Linked DNA regions of Homo sapiens: region 2 is linked to region 1. The links come from fine-mapping of genetic effects on gene expression. A gene starts in region 1. The other region holds a variant in brackets. All regions are shown on one strand. Distances are from middle to middle. Region 1 holds the start of ITGAE (integrin subunit alpha E). Region 2 overlaps ITGAE (integrin subunit alpha E).

Region 1 (9,651 bases):
ACTGCGCCTGGCCTTTTTTTTTTTTTTGAGACGGTGTCTCTCTCTGTCTTCCAGGCTGGAGTGCAGTGGTGTGATCTCAGCTCACTGCAACCTCTGCCTCCTGGGTTCAAGCAATTCTCCTGCCTCAGCCTCCCAAGTAGCTGGAATTACAGGTGCGCACCACCATGCCTGGCTCATTTTTGTATTTTTAGTAGAGACGGGGTTTCACCGTGTTGGCCAGGATGGTCTTGAACTCCTGATCACAAGTGCTCTGCCCGCCTTGGCCTCCCATAGTGCTGGGATTTCAGGCGTGAGCCACCGTGCCTGGCCAGGAAACTAAACGTTTCTCATGAGTGTGTCCTCCTCCCCACGTCTGCCTTCCGCAACAGCCGCAGATGGGGCCAAGGCAGCAGCCTCCTCACGGGCCTCTCTGCCTCCCCTCTCCCCCAGATTCCAACTAACACACAACATACAATTCTGTCGCCATCCTGGTCAAGACCTTCTGTGGCTCCCCACTGCCCTCAGCAGGAACTCCAAGCTCCCCCAGGCCGGCACTCAGGTCCCCACGTTCCTCACCACCTCCACCGTGGGCCTCTCGGGACTGGATGCCCGCATTCCTCCACTTATACCACACCTGCCACACGAATGCAGGCCTCCCAGAGAAGGGCAGGGATGTGGGGCTCCCACACGGCCCACACTCCCCCAGCCAGCTCTCCCCCACACACTGCATTCCGGGGGCATTTCACCTTTGCTTGGGCTGCCCCTCTGCCTGGAGTGCCCCTTCCCTACCCCCGTGCTGTGACACCCTGCCGGGGCCGGGGAGGCTACTGTGTGCACAACCTGCCTTCTCTTCACACAGGGGCTGGGATAGGGGTGGCCTCGCCTCTGCCCGCACCTCCAGGGCCCAGCATGTCCCGATTTGGGGCGGGGCTGGAAGGGAAAGCAACACCAGAGGAGACAATCTCCTGCTCCCACTCACACTTCGCCTCCATCTTCCTACAAACCAGACTCTTCACACCCCAGGGCTTGGTCCCTCCTATCCCCCCTGCACAGAAGGCCCCTCTGCTCACCCCCAGCCTGTACTTGCCAAGGACCTCCCCGTCCTTCAGAGCCCACCTCAGATGCTACAGTCTCCCACTCCCCAAGGACTGAGGTTTTCTATCACGCACAGGCCCGGGGTGATGCCCCGGCACAGCCCCTGGCCTCAGCCCGAGTGCGTGCCACCAGCAGAGCGGGCCCTGGACTTCTGGTTCCTTCTTCTTCACCCCTGTAAGGTGTTGTAGGCTGACAGGACAGGCTTCTTCACGCAAGGGTGGAAACTCAACCTCTGAGACCCAGGATGGAGAAGTGAGTTGATGTGACTGCAGAATGAGTCAGGGGTGAAGACTGACTTGGGGACAGCAGGCCACAGGGTAAGAGGGCATGATGGGGCTGGTGGTCAGGGTGTGGACAGTTCCAGGGTTTCAGTGTCTGTCTGCACCCAATGCTTCTAAAATCTCCCTTAGACAACTGCTATTATTCCGTCTGCTGCCACAAATAAGAAGTAGGCATCACCAGAGTGGCTGGCCTGGAGAGAGTGGAAGGTCAGGGCCAGGCCAGGCCAGTCCTGGATTCTCTCCAGCCTAAGGAGGCCCAACCCGGCACAGGGTACAGGGTGCTGGGCCTGGAGCCACAGTCTGAGGGAGTTCTTCCTCCCAGCATCTCCTGGACATTTTCTTTCTCAGACTCTCCTCAGCCCCCAAGACTCAACGCCACCTCACCTCCTCCAGGAAACTCTCCTGGACTGGCCCATCCTAGTCTCAGGACCTCACAGCATGGAGCAGAACTGCAGCAGCCTCGTTTCCGCCACCCACACCGGAGCTGCGGGGGCCCTGCTCTGGTCCCCTTCCCGTGGCTGAGCTGAGCTGTGGGCTAAGTGGTCTCATGGCAAGTCTGCTCCATCATCGCTCTCTGCTGCCCATCAGCTTGGGAAGGGCCTAGGCCTCAAAAGAGGTTTGATCGATGCCACCTGCTGGAAAAGGCACTGAGGTGATGGGTGGTGGTCTCAGAGGCTAAAGGAGACAGATGAGCCACAGGAGTATTCTGGAGCTGGGAGGCAGGACAGAGGCCTGGGCTTGAGCCTCGTGTCTATTATCAGTTGCTTGCAAGCCTGGGTAGTCACTGCCCGCTCTGTGCCCCAGTCACCTCCTCTGTACTGGGAGAGGGTAGACAAGAGTCTAGTCTAAGCATCTGCTCCAGATATTCTTGGTAATGGGAGATCAAAGCCACAAGCCATAAAAAGAGTGAGACTCTCTCCACACCCCACATGTAACTAAAAACAGAGAAGTCTAAATTGTAAAATAAAAGGAAGTTCAACAAACTGTTGACCTTTCCATGGTGACTATTCTGATGTTTTTGAAATATAAAATATTAGGCCGGGCAAGGTGGCTCATGCCTGTAGTCCCAACACTTTGGGAGGCCGAGGCAGGTCGATCACCTGAGGGCAGGAGACCAGCCTGACCAATATGGTGAGACCCTGTCTCTACTAAAAATACAAAAATTAGCCAGGCGTGGTGGCAGGCGCCTGTAATCCCAGCTACTCGGGAGGCTGAGGCAGGAGAACTGCTTGAACCTGGGAGGCAGAAGTTATGGTGAGCCAAGATCCAGCCTGGGCTCCAGCCTGGGCAGCAGAGCAAGACTCTGTCTCAAAAAATAAAATAAAATAAAATGAAATATAAAATATTAAAATCTGTCCAAAAACGTGTTCCTTGCTGGTACCCTACACATTGTGGCCTGCTTCCTGGGTGATCTGGCCCCAGGTGGGATGCTAATCCCAAGTCCCCTCCCAGCACAGCCTCAGCCCATCTTTCAGGGAGAACTCAGCTACCAGGAGCCTTTCATCCACATAAGCTTGATGCCCATCCAATTCTCCGGCCAACCTCCTGAGCAGGGGCAGGAGACCCATGGGAAGTCTGCTCAGATCACTAGGCAGGACCACCCTGGCCTCCGGCTTAATCTTAGCAGCCTCCAGGGGCTCACCTGACCGTGCTGTCTCATCACAGGGGGCCCCCGAAAGGACTCATGGCTTGGCTTGCCCAGAGGCTTCCATGGGACAGTTAAAGGCTAAAATGGGACCCCCCAGGCAGCAGAAGTGCCTCCCCCCACCCCACATTCCAGTTTTTACCCTGGGCCTGACAACACAGGAAGCAGGCTCCCTGCCAACACTCACACCCTCTACCATACAGACACTTGCCCCCAGTCTCTGGTCAACACTCTCTCACAGGGTCCTCACCCTCATCAGCCCAACCCCTGCTCTGTAACAGAAGGGAGCTCTGCCAGGCGGAGCCTCCACACTCAGAGAACAAACTACAGAGTCAAGGACCTGCCCCAAGTGGGTGCCATGGGGAGAGGGCCTCGGTGGCGGGGGGAGGCTGGCTGGAGGAGGAACAGAATGGCAGAGCCCTGGAGTCCAAAGGCCCTGGCTGACAGAACTGGCAACACGAAGCCTCAGCCGCCCTTCCCAACAAGCCTGGGGCCCTGACCCACCGAGCAAGACTCCTTTCCTGGAGGAGCTGCCACTCTCTAACCTCTGGCTCTAACTGAGCCCCATCAGAGACAGACAGTCAAGGCTGTAGTCTGCAGACACCTGGCTGGAGCTGAGGGCACAGCAGCCCCTCGAAGCAGCGGGTGAGAGGACTTACTGGCTATGCAGAGCAGAGTGTGGAAGAGCCACATCCTTGCTGGAGCAGAGGCGGCTGTGTGGGAGCCGAGGCGAGTGCGACACATGGGCCGTGGCCCACTCAGCTTCCCCTCAGCCAGGAGGCCAGGAGGCGGGGACAGAAGCACACACACCAGCAAGGACCCACAGACCGGCACTTTCAACCAAACAGAGACACTCCGGCTCGTACACAACCAGCCGTGTGGCTTCCTCAGTTGTGGGCTGGACCCTAGGAGCTTAGGGGCCACTGTCAGCCCCACTCTACCACCCACACTTTGACCCACACTTTCATGGAATAGGGAGCTGAGGTTTGGCCAGGGCCACAGTTCTAGGTGTCCTCAGCAGATGCTGGAGGTGCAGGAGCAACGTGAATCCAGCCTGCCGTTCGTATCATCCATTTGAGTCGGTCCCCTGTCCTGCCTCAGAACCTACCACCAGACATCTCAGCCCAGCTTCCAGCCCAGGGTCCTCGGTGGTGGTTGCCTCAGCACTGAGACAGGCGTCCCCCTCCCATAGGAAGTGCCTCCCCAGCCAAAAACTGGGCTCTTGTACCAGCCCATGCACTCAAGGCCCTGGGGTTCTGGAGGGCCAGGTGAGTGGAAAGACCCAACGCACTGAGTGAAATCACTGCCTCGATTCAACTTCGGCTGCGTTCATTCTCTTTAAAACCAGGACAGCAACCTGACGTGGAAACTGACTGAACAGGACTCTGAGTTACCAGAATAACAGAAGTAAAATTCTATACATCTTCCAGCATACCTGTGATGCATCCCAGCATTCCACAGAACACGCCGTTGACAGCTGGCAGTCGTGTTTAAGTGCTGATCTGAGATCTGTACTGTGTGACCAAGTCTGTGACACAGAAGGAACTCTCCTGCACCCCTGCTCCCCAGGCTGCTGGAAGTGCAGAGTGGCGCCGTCAAACAGAACTCTGCGCGGGGATGGAACTGCTCTAGGTCGACGCTGTCCAGGATGGTACTCATGAGCCACATATGGTACTAAACCCTTAAAATGCCACTAGAACAACTGATGAACTGAATTTTGTATATTTTATTTAATTTTAATTAAACGTAAAAAGGCAGGACATTCCAAGGCTCTCTAACACGAGTGTCTGCAGCCCCATTCGCTTTGAGATGTGAATGTGTTAACCCAGGGTGGACAATGGTGTTGACTTCATTACTAGATAAAAATCCATGTTATTTTGTTTCTCGCATTGAAAGGCTGCTTGGCTAAGGTTCTGTGAAGATCCGATGACATTTCCAACACTTTGCCTTGTCTGCTTTGCTCTGACAAAGTGCTTATGACTACTAGATCTTGCTCGGTTATGTGAGATTACAATTCACCGGTTTCCATCCTGTATGAAACAGAAGTTAAACAGTTGTAAAAGCAAAATTCCAGGTCTGGTGGTTTTCCTGCCAGGTCATGATGAAACCATCCTACTTCTGTTGAACCTCGTCCCAGGCAGGATCGGGGCCTGCGGCCTACAGCCTGTCTTCCCAGCGCTCCAGGGCTCGTGACCCTCCTCCTCCCCTCACTTCATTCTGCGCTCCAAGGGCACTGGGGAGAGTCACAGTGGTCTCCTCTCCCCCGCATTGGCCTAAAGCAGGAAGAGAGCAGCCCAGTCACTGAGCAGATCCCTGCTAGGGCAGGGCTAGAACCCAGACTGCAGCTCACTCGAGATTCCTGAGAGAAGACTTTGTGTTTGGAGTGTGAACGTCAGGGTGCCTCGGGAAGCCAGGGAAAGCTGATGACTGGGTGCTGGACAGGGAGCAGGGCCACTTCTGTACCTCTGCACACTTCTAGAATGCGGACTCATCCTGCATCCATCCAGTATGTATTTATCCAAGCGTCAGTGCCTCTAGTCATGAGACACACAGGGGTCCGTAAAGCCCACCTGGCGGTAGCTGCTTTCCCCACAAACCCAAACTACATCCCCAAGGTCAGGGCCAGGCTCTGTTGAGTAATGCTCCCCATCACAGCACGCAGCACAAGGCTGGCTGTTTGACAAATACACACATAACCAAAAGACATGTGAATGTGGTTTCCCAACTCACTTTAAACAAATATTCCGGGACCAACTTCAAGGACGTTCTACAACAGAAACTGGACTGTACTCTTCACAAACATCAATGTCATGAAAGACAGAAAGGCTGAGGACCTGCTCCAAACGAAAGGAGGCTGCAGAGAGGACAACTAAAGGCAGCGCTTGATCCTGGATTGGATCCTGGACCAGAAAAACAACGGCTTTCAAAATCATTATTGGGACAGTTGGCAAATTTGAAACAGGAACTACAAATTAGCAACTCCTGGGCTGATCAGAGAATATTACACATTTCCTGAATTTGAGAACTGTACCATGGGCATGTGAGAGGCTGTCCCTGTTCTTGGGAAATGTTCACTAAAACATCTTACGGATAAACGAGCATGATGTATACAAATAATCCTCAAATGGTTCATGGTTCAGAGAGGATAGGAAGAAACAGGGGTGAGGGAGAAGAGGAGGGAACGAATGAAAGAGAAAATGTGGCAAAATGTTCTTTGTTGTACCCTTCAAACTGCTGTGATTTTGAAATTATTTCAAAATAAAGTTTTAAATATTTTAAAAAATTTTTTTCTTTCTCCCCTTGATACCAGGAAGAATAAAGTTTTTAAAAAATGGGCAGGTGGGCCAGGCGCGGTGGCTCACGCCTGTAATCCCAGCACTTTGGGAGGCCGAGGCGGGCGGATCACAAAGTCAGGAGATCGAGACCATCCTGGCTAACACGGTGAAACCCGGTCTCTACTAAAAATACAAAAAAAATTAGCCAGGCGTGGTGGCGGGTGCCTGTAGTCCCAGCTACTCAGGAGGGTGAGGCAGGAGAATGGCGTGAACCCAGGAGGCGGAGCTCGCAGTGGGCGGAGATCATGCCACTGCACTCCACTTGGGTGACAGAGCGAGACTCCGTCTCAGAAAAAGTGGCCAGGTGCACTTGTAGTCACAGTTACTTAAGAGGTTCAAGCTACTTGGGAAAGCTTGAGCCCAGGAGTTTGAGTCCAATCTAGACAACATAGTATGAACCTGTCTCTTTAAAAAAAAGTTGCAAAATGTTCATGGATGGAGGAGACGTGCTCGGCGTGAGGTGAAAGGGCTGCCTGTGGGTCGGGCGTGGTAGCTGACACCTGTAATCCCAGCACTTTGGGAAGCCGAGGTAGGCGGATCGCCTGAGTTCAGGAGTTTGAGACCAGCCTGGGCAACATGGTGAAACCCTGTCTTTACTAAAAACACAAAAAATTAGCCAGGCGTGGCAGCGTGTGCCTGTAGCCCCAGCTTCGGGAGGCTATGGTGGGAGAATTGCTTGAACCTGGGAGGCGGAGGGTGCAGTGAGCCGAGACTGCGCCATTGCACTCCAGCCTGGGCGACAAGAGCAAGACTTCATCTCCAAAAAAAACAGAAAGGGCTGCCTGCTGTCTTCAGAGTGAGTCAAAAGCACTGAGGCACAGCCTTCAGACACAGGAAATGGTTCTATTCTCCCACTTGCCTTCTGACTCTTAGGAAGCCAGAAAGAGTGACGGCATTGCTGAGACCAGAGCCCAGGGCTGCAGAGCAGTGGTACTCACGACCTTTGAACACTCGGTAGGAGTGCCCTGCTCAGTGCCAAGGCCTCACATGCGAGCCCTCATCTGAGCCTCTCAGCCACCTACAAGGTCAACCCGATTTCTCAGATAAGGATGCTGCCTCTGAGAGGCCACATAGCTAGTAAGGAGCAGAGCTGGGACTCCAAACAGGCCTGTTTCCTCCAGAATCAGGACTCTGAACCACCACAAACTCTCCTGCCTTCAGCTCTTTTGGTGTGTAGACTTTTTTTATTTTTGTTTTTGAGATGGAGTCTTGCTCTTTCATCCAGACTGGAGTGCAGTGGCACAATCTCAGCTTACTGCAACCTCTGCCTCCTGGGTTCAAGCGATTCTCCTGCCTCAGCCTCCCGAGTAGCTGGGACTACAGGTGCCCGCCACCACACCCGGCTAATTTTTGTATTTTTAGTAGAGACGGGGTTTCACCATGTTGGCCAGGCTGGTCTCGAACTCCTGACATCAGGTGATCCCCGCCTCGGCCTCCCAAAGTGCTGAGACTACAGGTGTGAGCCACGTGCCCAGCTAGGTGGTGTGTAAACTTTAAAAAAGCAGAGATTTCATCCCACAAATGCAGACTGGGATCTCCACATGACCAGGTGCTGTGGACTGAACTGTAAATGTCCTCCAAATTCATATGTTGAAGCCCTAACCCCCAATGTGGCTCTTCTTGGACATATGGCTTTTAGGAAGTAATTAAGGTTAGATGAGGTCATAATCCAGCAAGATTGGTGGCCTTACAAGAGCCATGTGCAGGCACCAAGAAAAGCCTACGTGAATAAGACAGCAAGAGGGTGCTCACCATGTTGGCATCCTCCGGCCTCAGATCTGTGGGGGACTGCGGGGGTGATGGGACAGGGAGAGAACAAGGAGTGGATTTTCTTGTCCTTTCTAAGGAAGGGGCTGGGAGGGCGAGGGCTGCACTGGGTGCTGGGACCAAGGGTCCAGGGGCTTGGATCTCTTGTTTACAAACCCCTACTTCTTTCCTGCTATCTAGCCCACACCCCTGATGCTCCCCGGAAAGGAGAGCAAGGATCCTTGAACACGCGTTAGCACTAGAAGGAAACTGGAGCTCACCCCAGTTGAGCCCTCCATTTGACAGACAGGGAAGCTGAGGCCCAGGGAGGTGAGGGGACTTGCTCAGTCTTTCCAATTGAGTATGTGGGGCAGAAGGAGTCCCCAGAGCCCCGGCCCCAGCCACCATCCTATTTGACTTTCCCCAACAGGCATTCTACCTCAGCTAAAGATGCTGCCTGCCTCTCACAGGCCCTGAGGAGAAGATGGCCACATCACAGGATCGAACACTACCACAAAACTCCTAGGAAGGGACAGGAAGGTGAGAATCCTTTCTTTTTTTTTTGAGACGGAGTCTCGCTCTGTCGCCCAGGCTGGAGCGCAGTGGCGCGATCTCACCTCACTGCAACCTCTGCCTCCCGGGTTCAAGTAATTCTCCTGTCTCAGCCTCCCAAGTAGCTGGGACTACAGGTACCCACCACCACGCCCAGCTAATTTTTGTATTTCTAGTAGAGACGGGGTTCCAACATGTTGGCCAGGCTGCTCTTGAACTCCTGACCTCAGGTGATCCACCCGCCTCGGCCTCCCAAAGTGCTGGGATTACAGGCGTGAGCCACCAAGCCCGGCCTGAGAATTCTCTTCTGTCAATGGTGTGGGCCTCTCGACCTCACTAACCTATATTGGCCCAGAGGTGATGGTGACAATTTGAGATAACACAAAGTCTCAACTATTTACGAACCTGGTCATCCAGAGAGGGCCCCGGAATTGCTCAAATGAACAGTAAGAATCCTGAGGCAGGGTACTGACCTTGGTAGGTGAAATACCGCCTATACTCTCAAGTTTTATGGATAGTGCAGCCAAATTCCACTCGGATGCCTCACAACTACTTAAAATTGGCTTTTTGAAGCAGCATTTCCCTAACTACTCCCAGGAACAAAGTTCTGTGAAATGTTCATAGAGCTTCATTGAAAAAAAAAAAAAAAAAAAAGCTACAATATTTTTCTTCTAAGATTTATTTTATAAACATGTAAGAAAAGTTGTAGATATTTATTGTGGGTCTGGTTATGCAAGAACAATCTTCCTGGACACAGTGTGCGATTCTCAGTATCAAAAGCATTCTCTTCTTTCAGTTCGTAAAAGAAAAACATGGTTTAACTTCTAATTTACTGCTTATTATAAGGTTTAAAAGCAATTACTGTACTTATGTATCGAACTTATTTGTGTAGCAACTAATTCATCTGTGAAGCCATGGTTTGCTGTGGCTTCACAGTAAATTTTGACTTAAGTCTAAAGCGTGTGTTAGCATCTCACCGTAACTTAATGCTTCGAGTGAGAAGTTTGAGGAATGCTGC
Region 2 (9,651 bases), 83 kb before region 1:
GGGGTTTCACCGTGTTAGCCAGGATGGTCTCCATCTCCTGACCTCGTGATCCACCTGCCTCAGCCTCTCAGAGTGCTGGGATTACAGGCGTGAGCCACCGCACCCCGCCTATTTTGTTTTTTTCTTTTTGAGATGGAGTCTCACTCTGTTGCTAGGCTGGAGTGCAGTGGCACGATCTCGGCTCACTGCAACCTCCGCCTCCCAGGTTCAAATGATTCTCCTGCCTCAGCCTCCTGAGTAGCTGGGACTACAGGCACCCGCCACCATGCCCAGCTAATTTTTGTATTTTTAGTAGAGATGGGGTTTCACCATGTTGGCTAGGATAGTCTCGATCTCTTGACCTCGTGATCTGCCTGCCTCAGCCTCCCAAAGTGCTGGGATTACAGGCGTGAGCCATCATGCCCGGCCACAATCTATCATTTTTTAAAAATAAGAATGAAAACTTGCCCTATCAGGCAAAATGTACTGCAAATCCTAAGTAATACTGTATTTCCAGATTAAAGGCACTACTGCAAAGAAAAGTGTAAATTTATTTAATACCAAATGTTTCCTAAGTTTACTTTTTGCACAATGCACAGACACTTTTGGGACAATGTATGGTTAAAAACTAATATTCTACCAACAGCTCCATGCTGCTCTAGATCATCCTGAAGGAAAAAGTAATGCAAAGGATGCTGGGTCTCCAAGTCCCAGGACTGGCTGATAGCCTCTCCCAGTGGATAGCAGGTCCTAATTCTCTTCTTCGAGCAGATTCTCTGATTTCAGCTGGGCCTTCCTGATGCTCTCCAAGTTCAGTTGTTGATATTTTCTTTTAAAAAAGCCACACTGAAACAAAGGAAGGAAAAGTCCAGTTACAGGCCAAAGATAGCCATCTGTTTCAGAAAACCGGCATTCTGGCTGTTGCCTAAATAGCCCCTATATTCCTCTGCTTCTCATACTTACTACTCCCTTCTCCTAACTTACTCTGAATCTCTCCTGGAGAGTCCAATCCTTCAAGACCTCTGGTGCTCATCCCTCAATCAGAACTGACTCCACCTTCCTCTGAACCCTGCTCTCCCGAGCAGCTGAACCTTTTTAACTTATTTTGCAAAGCATGATAATTTCGGCTGTACTGGATCTAATCTTATTTATGCAAAAATACTCAGTATAGCCTATGATGCTGAAGACAGAAGGAGATCAAGTACAGCTTCCTACATCAAGCTCATCATCTAGTAGGAAAAAGAGATAATTACAACACAGTGTGATGACTGCCATTTGGAAGGGTTTCTAGAAGGGAGCTCACAGCAAACACACAGAAGCCAGCACAGAGGACTCAGGAGTCTCTAGACCGCTTTCAGGGAAGACAGTGAGTGAAGTGAGCAGTCATGGAGGGCATTCCTGACAAGAAAAGCAGCCTACGCGTACGCAGAGGCACGAACCTATTTAGGGAATAGTTTGACTTGTTGGGAGAAAAAAGCAAGGTCAGGTGCTTATGCCTGTAACCCCACCACTTCGGGAGGCCAAGATGAGAAGATGGCTCGAGCCCCGGAGTTTGAGACCAGCCTGGGCAATATAGGGAGACCTCATCTCCACAAAATTAAAATTAAAAAATTAGCTGGGTGTGGTGGCATGCACCTGAGTAACAGTCCCAGTTACTCAGGAGACTAAGATGGGAGGATCACCTGAGCCTAGGAGTACGAGGCTGCAGTGAGCCCTTAACTGTGCCACTGAGCTCCAGCTTGGGGGACAAAGACCCTGGTGTTTATTTTTAAAAAAGAGGCTGGGAGTGGTGGTTCATGACTGTAATCCCAGAACTTTGGGAGGCCGAGGCGGGAGGATCACAAGGTCAGGAGTTTGAGACCAGCCTGGCCAATATGGTGAAACCCCGTCTCTACTAAAAATACAAAACAATTAGCCAGGCATGGTGGCACATTCCTGTAATCCCAGCTACTCAGGAGGCTGAGGCAGGAGAATCTCTTGAACCCGGGGTCAGGGTGGGGGGAAGGGAAGGTTGCAGTGAGCCGAGATCGCACCACCGCACTCAAGCCTGGGCGAAAGAGCGGAACTCCGTCTCAAAAAAAAAAAAGAAAAAAAAGCAACACTTAAGGGCAGAGACGGGTAGCGGACAGAGAGGAGAGGATCTTAAATAGCAGTAGAAGAGTTTGCACATTAAGACAGGGGAAGGCAAGGAAAAGATTTCAACAGGGGAACAACAGTCACATCTGTTTTAAGGCCTTACCGTTAAGGCCTCTTCCAAGTAAGTTATAAATGCTGGCCTAGGGTTGACCTTCCAGGCCCTATTGAACTCACAGGTAACCGAACATAACAGTATTAAGTTCTGGGCCTTGAGAATAGGGAGGTACCAAAGAAATATATATAAAATCACTCTTTATAACTCAGAGTTTTCTCTTTTCAGACAGATACTGTTTTACTCATTTGTCTAAATGGGGGTGTGCAGTTGAAGGAGGAGAAAAAAGTGGCCACGAGGCCAGGGCAGCTGCTCTAAGTCAGAGGTTGGCTGTCCTAAGGAGTTCTGTGCCCAAAACTAGAGCCCAGTCTTCCCTCACTGTGATGCCATGAGTAGAACTGACCTTGAACAGGATGACCAGAATCACGATCAACACCAGAAGTCCACCAACGCTGCCTTTAATGATGATAGGCAAAGAATGGTACTTCTCATCTTTCAGGAAGACGACAGTGATCTAGACAAGACAAAGAGATCGCCCAATAAATCAGGTGAAGCAAACAAGGAAAAAATCCTACATGTTATTTTAAGGAGCAAAATACGAGGACTTGGCAACAACCCGTGTATTGATCAAAGCTGATGACAGTAAAGCAAAAAGCTAGATATTCCCTGATGCAGCATTTTAGATCATCTAAAACTATCCAATCACCCAAATACTTCGTAAGAAACTATTCTGGCCCCTTATCTAGAAGGGCTAGGTCTGTCAGGAGATTATGACCTTCTGTTAAAGATGCTCTGACAGCTTGAAAGAGGGTCCCACGGAATCCGGTCTCAACACAGGACTGTGAGGCTGTCACGCCGCTACACTGCTCTATGTCCCTGAGCCCCGTGCCTATGCTCTTTAAAATGATGACTTCCTTTAAATGATCTCCAAGTCCTTTCCAACTCCGTTCTGACGGCTCTTTTTGATCTTGCACAGATCCCTAAAGGCTTTGGTAATACACTTTCCCCACATAAAATATGACAAAAGTACTGGTCTTCCCCTCACCAGACTAAAAAGTGTGTATTACCTAAGGGACATAATAAATGCAAATTATATCCATGTGTACTACTTGCAGAGCTCAGCTATTAGAAGTCATCCGCAGGTTTTGTTTTCCAAAGGCTCTCCCAATTTCGGGAGTCTAATCTCTCTTCTGGCAGGGCTCAGCTAGAAAGTTCAGGAGATGTCCTTCCTGAGACCCAGGTATGGCCCTTCCAAGTTGTGGCCAGAGGAAGTTCCCAGGACTTAGGTGGGGCCAGAGAGCCAACAAGACTTCTCTGCCTGCCCAGAGCAACCCTTCACGTGTATGTTTAAGCACCAAGGTCAGGGGTGCTTTGGAGAGGTTTCTGTACGGGGTGAAGGGCTGGACAAACTTACCTTTAAGGCCTCTTCCAATTAAGTTATAAATGCTGGTTGACCTAAAGTTGACCTTCCAGTCCTATTTAGCTCATAGGTAGCTGAACTAAATAGGAGTGAAGTCCTAGGCTTTGAGAATAGGGAGGTACCATAGCAACAAAGAGGGAGGAAGAACAGAAAGAGGGCTGGAATATTCTACAGGAGAAGGAGGGGGACTCAAGACCCTGGGTTTGGGAAGTGAAAGGAAGTCCCAAGGTGACTCGGGAAACAGGCCAGATGTGAGTAGAAGAAATGTCCCTATTTCTCAAAGCCACCTCCCTTTATCTTCTTCTAAACCCACAGATTCCCAAAAGTGCCCCAAAGATGCCCAAGTAGAGGTTAAGGGAGAAGCAAGGCACCGGGTACTACTGTTTGCAGCAAACACGGATGCTGGCCTGCCCAGGGGCCCCTCTCTCCTTTTGGATTTTATTCAGGAATCATCGTTGGTCTCAGGTGATCATGACACAGCTATTCTCCTTTGCCAGTGACTGACATGAGATTCAGATCTCACTAATAAGATGTAAGAGGATGTCTCCTGGGAGCTTTTGGAAACTGTTTCATCCCTGAAAAGGGAAGGCACATGAAGAAAAATCCAACATCCTTTTGCTACTGACTTCTTGCTTCCTGTTTTGTATCCTGCCATGTGAAAATACAGCATTTGGAGATGTGGCAACTTTGTGCTGGCCATGAAGGAATGCGTCCCCCACACGGCAGAGTACAAGGACCAAAGAAGCCAGGCCATCGCCCCAGGCCGGCCTCCCTCACTGGATAAACAGCATATGCCCTTATGCTGCATGAGCTGGATTTTCCCTTTCTTGTGGCTGAAATGCATTTGGATACAGTTTGTTTATACTCATAGAGTCACTGTAAGTCAGGGGCTTATTGTCAGGAACTACTTAACACTTTGCTTAGGATATTGGATTTAAAGAAAGGAATTTTGGGGAATCCATGCTATAGAAATAAAAGTATCAGTAAGTAAGAGGGGGAAACATACAAATTTAAAATGTGCACATAAGAAACTTAATAGTAACTCCTCCCTGCTGGGGGCATGGGAAGGGAGAAATGAAGGAACAATTATTTTTCATTTGGTACCATTCTCTGTATGGCTTGGATTTTCTTGCTATTATTTTTATTTGTTAAAATCTGGGCAGTGCAATAATGGGGCACTTCTATTTCTTCCGTTTTCTGTATTTTCCATTTCCCTCTATTTTCTGTATTAGAAATACACTACTTAGCCGGACATGGTGGCTCATGCCTGTAATCCCAGCACTTTGGGAGGTCAAGGCGGGCAGATCACCTGAGGTCAGAAGTTCGAGACCAGCCTGGCCAACATGGTGAAATCCTGTCTCTATTTAAAAAAAATAAATAAATTAGCCAGGCATGGTGGTGGGCACCTGTAATCCCAGCTACTCGGGAGGCTGAGGAAGAAGAATCACTTGAACTGGGGAGGTGGAGGTTGCAGTGAGCCGAGATGGCACCAACGGACTCCAGCCTGGG[C/T]GACACAGTGAGATTCTTCCTCAAAAAAAAAAAAAAAAAAAAAGAAAAGAAAAGAAAAAGAAATACACTACTTAAAAATAAAAGGAAATGTTATATTGGCATGTCTAGAGAATTGCTCCTTTCTCCTCCTCCAGGGAGGAAAACAGAGGACCTTATATTTAGCAATCCAGCATCACTCTCCTGACATTCCCTCTAGTAGAGAATCATGCCTAACTAAAGAGCTCAGAGCTCACAGATAGATCACCTCTGAAGCCATGTCCAGGCAAGGGTCAACAAGAATGAAAACACAGGGTAACACACAAAGCATTCAGTCCACAAATCACAGGCATCAGTCTGACTTCTAGTCATACTTTTGCAAAAAGAATTCCAAGAGTTCCAGTATCTAGTCTAAATCTTATAAAAGATTTATGCATTCCTGAGTACTGTTTAATACTATAACTAAACACTGATACAGCACACTAAGACAGTTACTGGATACAAAAAACAATTTCTCACTTAGGTAATTCATTTTTTATTTATTTATTTATTTTTTGAGACTGAGTCTCACTCTATCACTGAGGCTGGAGTGGAGTGGTGTGATCTCGGCTCACTGCAACCTCTGCCTCCCAGATTCAAGCGATTCTCGTGCCTCAGCCTCCCAAGTAGGTGGGATTACAGGCACCCACCATCATGTCCGGCTAATTTTTGTATTTTTGGTAGACAGGGTTTCTCCATGTTGGCCAGGCTTGTGTTGAACTTCTGACCTCAGGTGATCCACCTGTCTCGGCCTCCCAAAGTGCTAGGATTACAGGCGTGAGCCACCTGCGCCCAGCTGCGAAATTTTTTTTTTTAATCAATCCATTTTCAAATCAAAGTATATACTGCAGATTCCAGCCTAGTTATTTCAACTCAGAACTCCTCAGCTTAGGCCTCTTAATTGCCTTATTTCATAAGAAGCTGACTCACTCAAAGGTCACAAAGGCAGCGATGGCAGAGCCAAGATCAGAAGTGTTAAGGCTGAAAACAGGAAGAGGGCAACAGAATGTCTGTGGAGGTGCTCAAAGGTTAGGCACAATTTTCCTTGGGCACTACTCAGAAGCCAGCCAGGAATTACCTTAGTTCTGTGGTTCTCTGCATTCAGTCCCTCATATAGAGATTTGTTGAAAGATATTTCACCAAGGATCTGCAGTTCAGTTACATCTTTTAGTAACTAGAAGATGGGGAAAGGAATGAGGGAAACAAAACATATTTTAGACATGAACTCACTGTGTTTGAACAGCCTTCACCACCTTTCCCTTTAAAGGTATTCCTGGGCTTAGTTAATGGCCCTAACGTACACAACACTACATAAAGTTACCCAAACAAGACATCTGCAGTTATTCTTCAACTTCCTTTTTTTTTTTTTTTGAGATGGAGTTTCGCTCTTTCGCCCAGGCTGGAGTGAAGTGGTGCGATCTCGGCTCACTGCAACCTCCACCCCGTCAGGTTCAAGCGATTCTCCTGCCTTAGCCTCCCGAGTAGCTGGAATTATGGGCATGTGCCACCATGCCAGGCTAATTTTTGTATTTTTAGTAGAGATGGGGTTTTGCCATGTTGGCCAGGCTTGTCTCGAACTCCTGACCTCAGATGATCTACCCACCTCGGCCTCCCAAAGTGCTGGGATTACAGGCGTGAGCTGCCGCGCCTGGCCTTTTCTTCAACTTCTTTTCCCTTGTGCCATCCAAAGTCAGTTCTTGACTGACTGACTTATTTTTGAGACAGGATCTCGCTCTGTCACCCATGCTGGAGTGCAATGGCATGATCATGGGTCACTATAGCCTCAACCTTCCAGGCTCAAGTGATCCTCCCACCTCAGTCTCCTGAGTAGCTGAGACCACAGGTGCACCCCACCACACTGGGCTAATTTTTGTATTTTTTGTAGAGATGGGGTTTTACCATGTTGCCCAGGCTGGTCTCAAACTCCTGGGCTCAAGCAATCCACCCACCTTAGCCTCCCACAGTGCTGAGATTACAGGCATGAGCCACCACACCCAGCTTATTCATTTTATTTAACGTAAGAGATTTTTCCTTTTTTTTTTTTTTTTTTTTTTTTTTTTTGAGACAAGGTCTCACTCTGTTACTCGGGCCGGAATGGAGTGGCTCAATCATAGCTCACTGAAGCTTCAAATTCCTGGGCTCAAACGATACTCCTGCCTCAGCCTCCCAAGTAGCTGGGACTACAGGCATGAGCCACCATGCGTGGCTAATTTATGTATTTATTTATTTTTAAGAAATGGGGTTTCACTATGCTGCCCAGGCTGATCTTGAACTCCTGGCCTCAAGCAATCCTCCCGCCTCAGCCTCCCAAAGTGTTGGGATGACAGATGTGAGCCACCACACTCACAATTCTTTTTTTTTAAATTATTTCTTGTATCTGTCCCTTTCTTTTCCACCCCCATTGCTACTTCTTCAGTTGAGACCTCACAAATGTCACCTGGATCACTGTAAAACATTAAACTTGATCACTTGATCACTAGTTCCCACTTTAGAATAAGTGATCAGGGAAGGCCTCTCTAAGAAAATAACACGTGTGGCCGGGTGTGGTGGCTCATGCCTGTAATCCCAGCACTTCGGGAGGCTGAGGTGGGTAGATCATCTGAGGTCAGGAGTTCAAGACCAGCCTGACCAACACGATGAAACCCCATCTCTACTAAAAATACAAAATTAGCCGGGCGTGGTGGCTCACGCCTGTAATCCCAGCACTTTGGGAGGCCAAGGAGGGCGGATCACCTGAGGTCAGGAGTTCAAGACCAGCCTCACCAACATGGAGAAACCCCATCTCTACTAAAAATACAAAATTAGCCGGGTATGGTGGCGCATACCTGTAATCCCAGCTACTTGGGAGGCTGAGGCAGGAGAATCGCTTGAACCCGGGAGGCGGAGGTTGCAGTGAGCCGAGATCGTGCCATTGCACAACAAGAGCGAAACTCCGTCTTGAAAGAAAGAAAAGAAAAGAAAAGAACACCTAGGTCGGGTGCGGTGGCTCACGCCTGTAATCCCAGCACTTTGGGAGGCTGAGGCGGGCGATCACCTGAGGTCAGGAGTTCGAGACCAGCCTGGCCAACATGGTGAAACCCCCTCTCTACTAAAAATACAAAAATTAGCTGGGCGTGGTCGCCGGCGCCTGTAATCCCAGCTACTCGGGAGGCTGAGGCAGGAGAATCACTTGAACCCGGGAGGCGGAGGTTGCAGTGAGTAGAGATCGTGCCACTGCACTCCAGCCCGGGTGACAGAGCAAGACTCCATCTAAAAAAAAAAAAAAAAAAAAGAAAAGAACACCTGAGCTAAATTTAAGAAGAAACCACCTACGTCAGGACCTAGAGGAAGAGCAGTGTCAAGCAAAGGAACAGCAAGTACAAAGTCTTGTGGCCAGAATAATGCTGTACTGGCGAGCTAGAAGAATAGGACAGAATAACCCGATTATAAAAGGGGCAGTGGGAGAGAAAGGCGAGTACTAGGAGATGAAGTTGAAGAATTAAGCAGAGACCAGATCAAGTACTGCCTTGCTCTGGCCATGAAAAAAGTATGGATTTTAGTCTAAGTGTGCTCAAGCATCAGTTTTGTTTGTTTGTTATTTTTAATAAGCAGGGGAATGGCACAATCTAATGTCTGCTCTTAGAAGACGGATAGCTGTTACGTGGGAATTATTTGTAAAGAATGTGGGAAAAGCAGAGGCAAGAAAGGCAGGCCGAAGGTTATTGCAACAGCCCTGGCAAGAAAGGGTAGCTTGAATTACAACGGCAGTGGAAATGGAGAGAAGTGAATGGGTTTAGGATATATTTTGGCCCTGAAATGGCAGGGCTTGCTGCTGGAATAGACGTGGGGATGTAGGAAAGAGGAGTCACAGGTAATCCCTCGAGTTCCTTGTACTGTAACTGGAGTATATCTCCCTCCTGAGGGTAGCTAAGGAACGGGTTGGGACAGAGGGTTGGTTTTTTGCACCAAAAGATCTATTTTGGACATGGACATGTTATGCAAAGATGCTATTATCTCTTCTAGGGGCGATGCCCGTGAGCAACTGGATAATCAAATCTGGAGCATTTCAGTCTCAAACACCTCCTCAGAGTGATCCCAGGAGATCTCTGCAGCCACGGTGACATTTTCTTTATCTGAAGCGATGACACAGCTCACTGAATGCCATTCTTCCACATGCTGGAAAAGCGAGGTCTAGTGAACACAATTCCTTTCCGTGCGGAAAGTCTGAAATCTTTTTAACACTTCGGACACAGAGCATCGTAAGGTCCCAGAATAGAGGGTGTGAGCAATTTCAGCGCTCACCTCGGCCCAAGCGAAGCTCCAGCGGGAGCAATTGAGACCCAGGGACGAAGCTAGGGAGGGCCTGGCAGCCCCCGGCACTGGCCGGCAGGGGTAACCCAGGAAAAACAGTCTCCTGGCCTCTCGTTACCCGCTTCAGGCCCTCCGCCCTCCCCTGGCCTCTCGGGACGGCCGCGCTTACCTGAACCGAACTGTACGCACAAGCGCGCTCCTGACTCCAGGTGCACACCGTGGAGGCCTGAAACGAGAGCCATGACCGCGA

What was found. PIP is the estimated chance that this variant, and not a neighbour inherited with it, causes the effect. A credible set is the group of variants that fine-mapping cannot tell apart.
Region 2: its variant is the best candidate, but not a certain one, in a credible set for the expression of ITGAE in whole blood (TOPMed, PIP 0.72).

What each region holds. Positions count from the first base shown.
Region 1 is chr17:3,797,452-3,807,102 of GRCh38, forward strand. ITGAE (integrin subunit alpha E) reads right to left here and starts at 3,737. Exons shown (of 31, transcript NM_002208.5): 1 at 3,660-3,737. The coding sequence starts at 3,693. It overlaps NCBP3 (nuclear cap binding subunit 3), which reads right to left. Exons shown (of 13, transcript NM_001114118.3): 13 at 4,707-9,651. RefSeq lists enhancers at 315-1,213, 1,394-1,453, 1,464-1,513.
Region 2 is chr17:3,714,118-3,723,768 of GRCh38, forward strand. It overlaps ITGAE (integrin subunit alpha E), which reads right to left. Exons shown (of 31, transcript NM_002208.5): 27 at 9,571-9,627; 28 at 9,171-9,266; 29 at 6,190-6,285; 30 at 2,571-2,681; 31 at 511-825. The coding sequence ends at 730. It also overlaps a transcript of P2RX5 not described here. Among named protein-coding and RNA genes, the nearest start is that of HASPIN, 5.0 kb to the right of the region's middle. The variant C/T (reference allele first, on the strand shown) is at 5,097.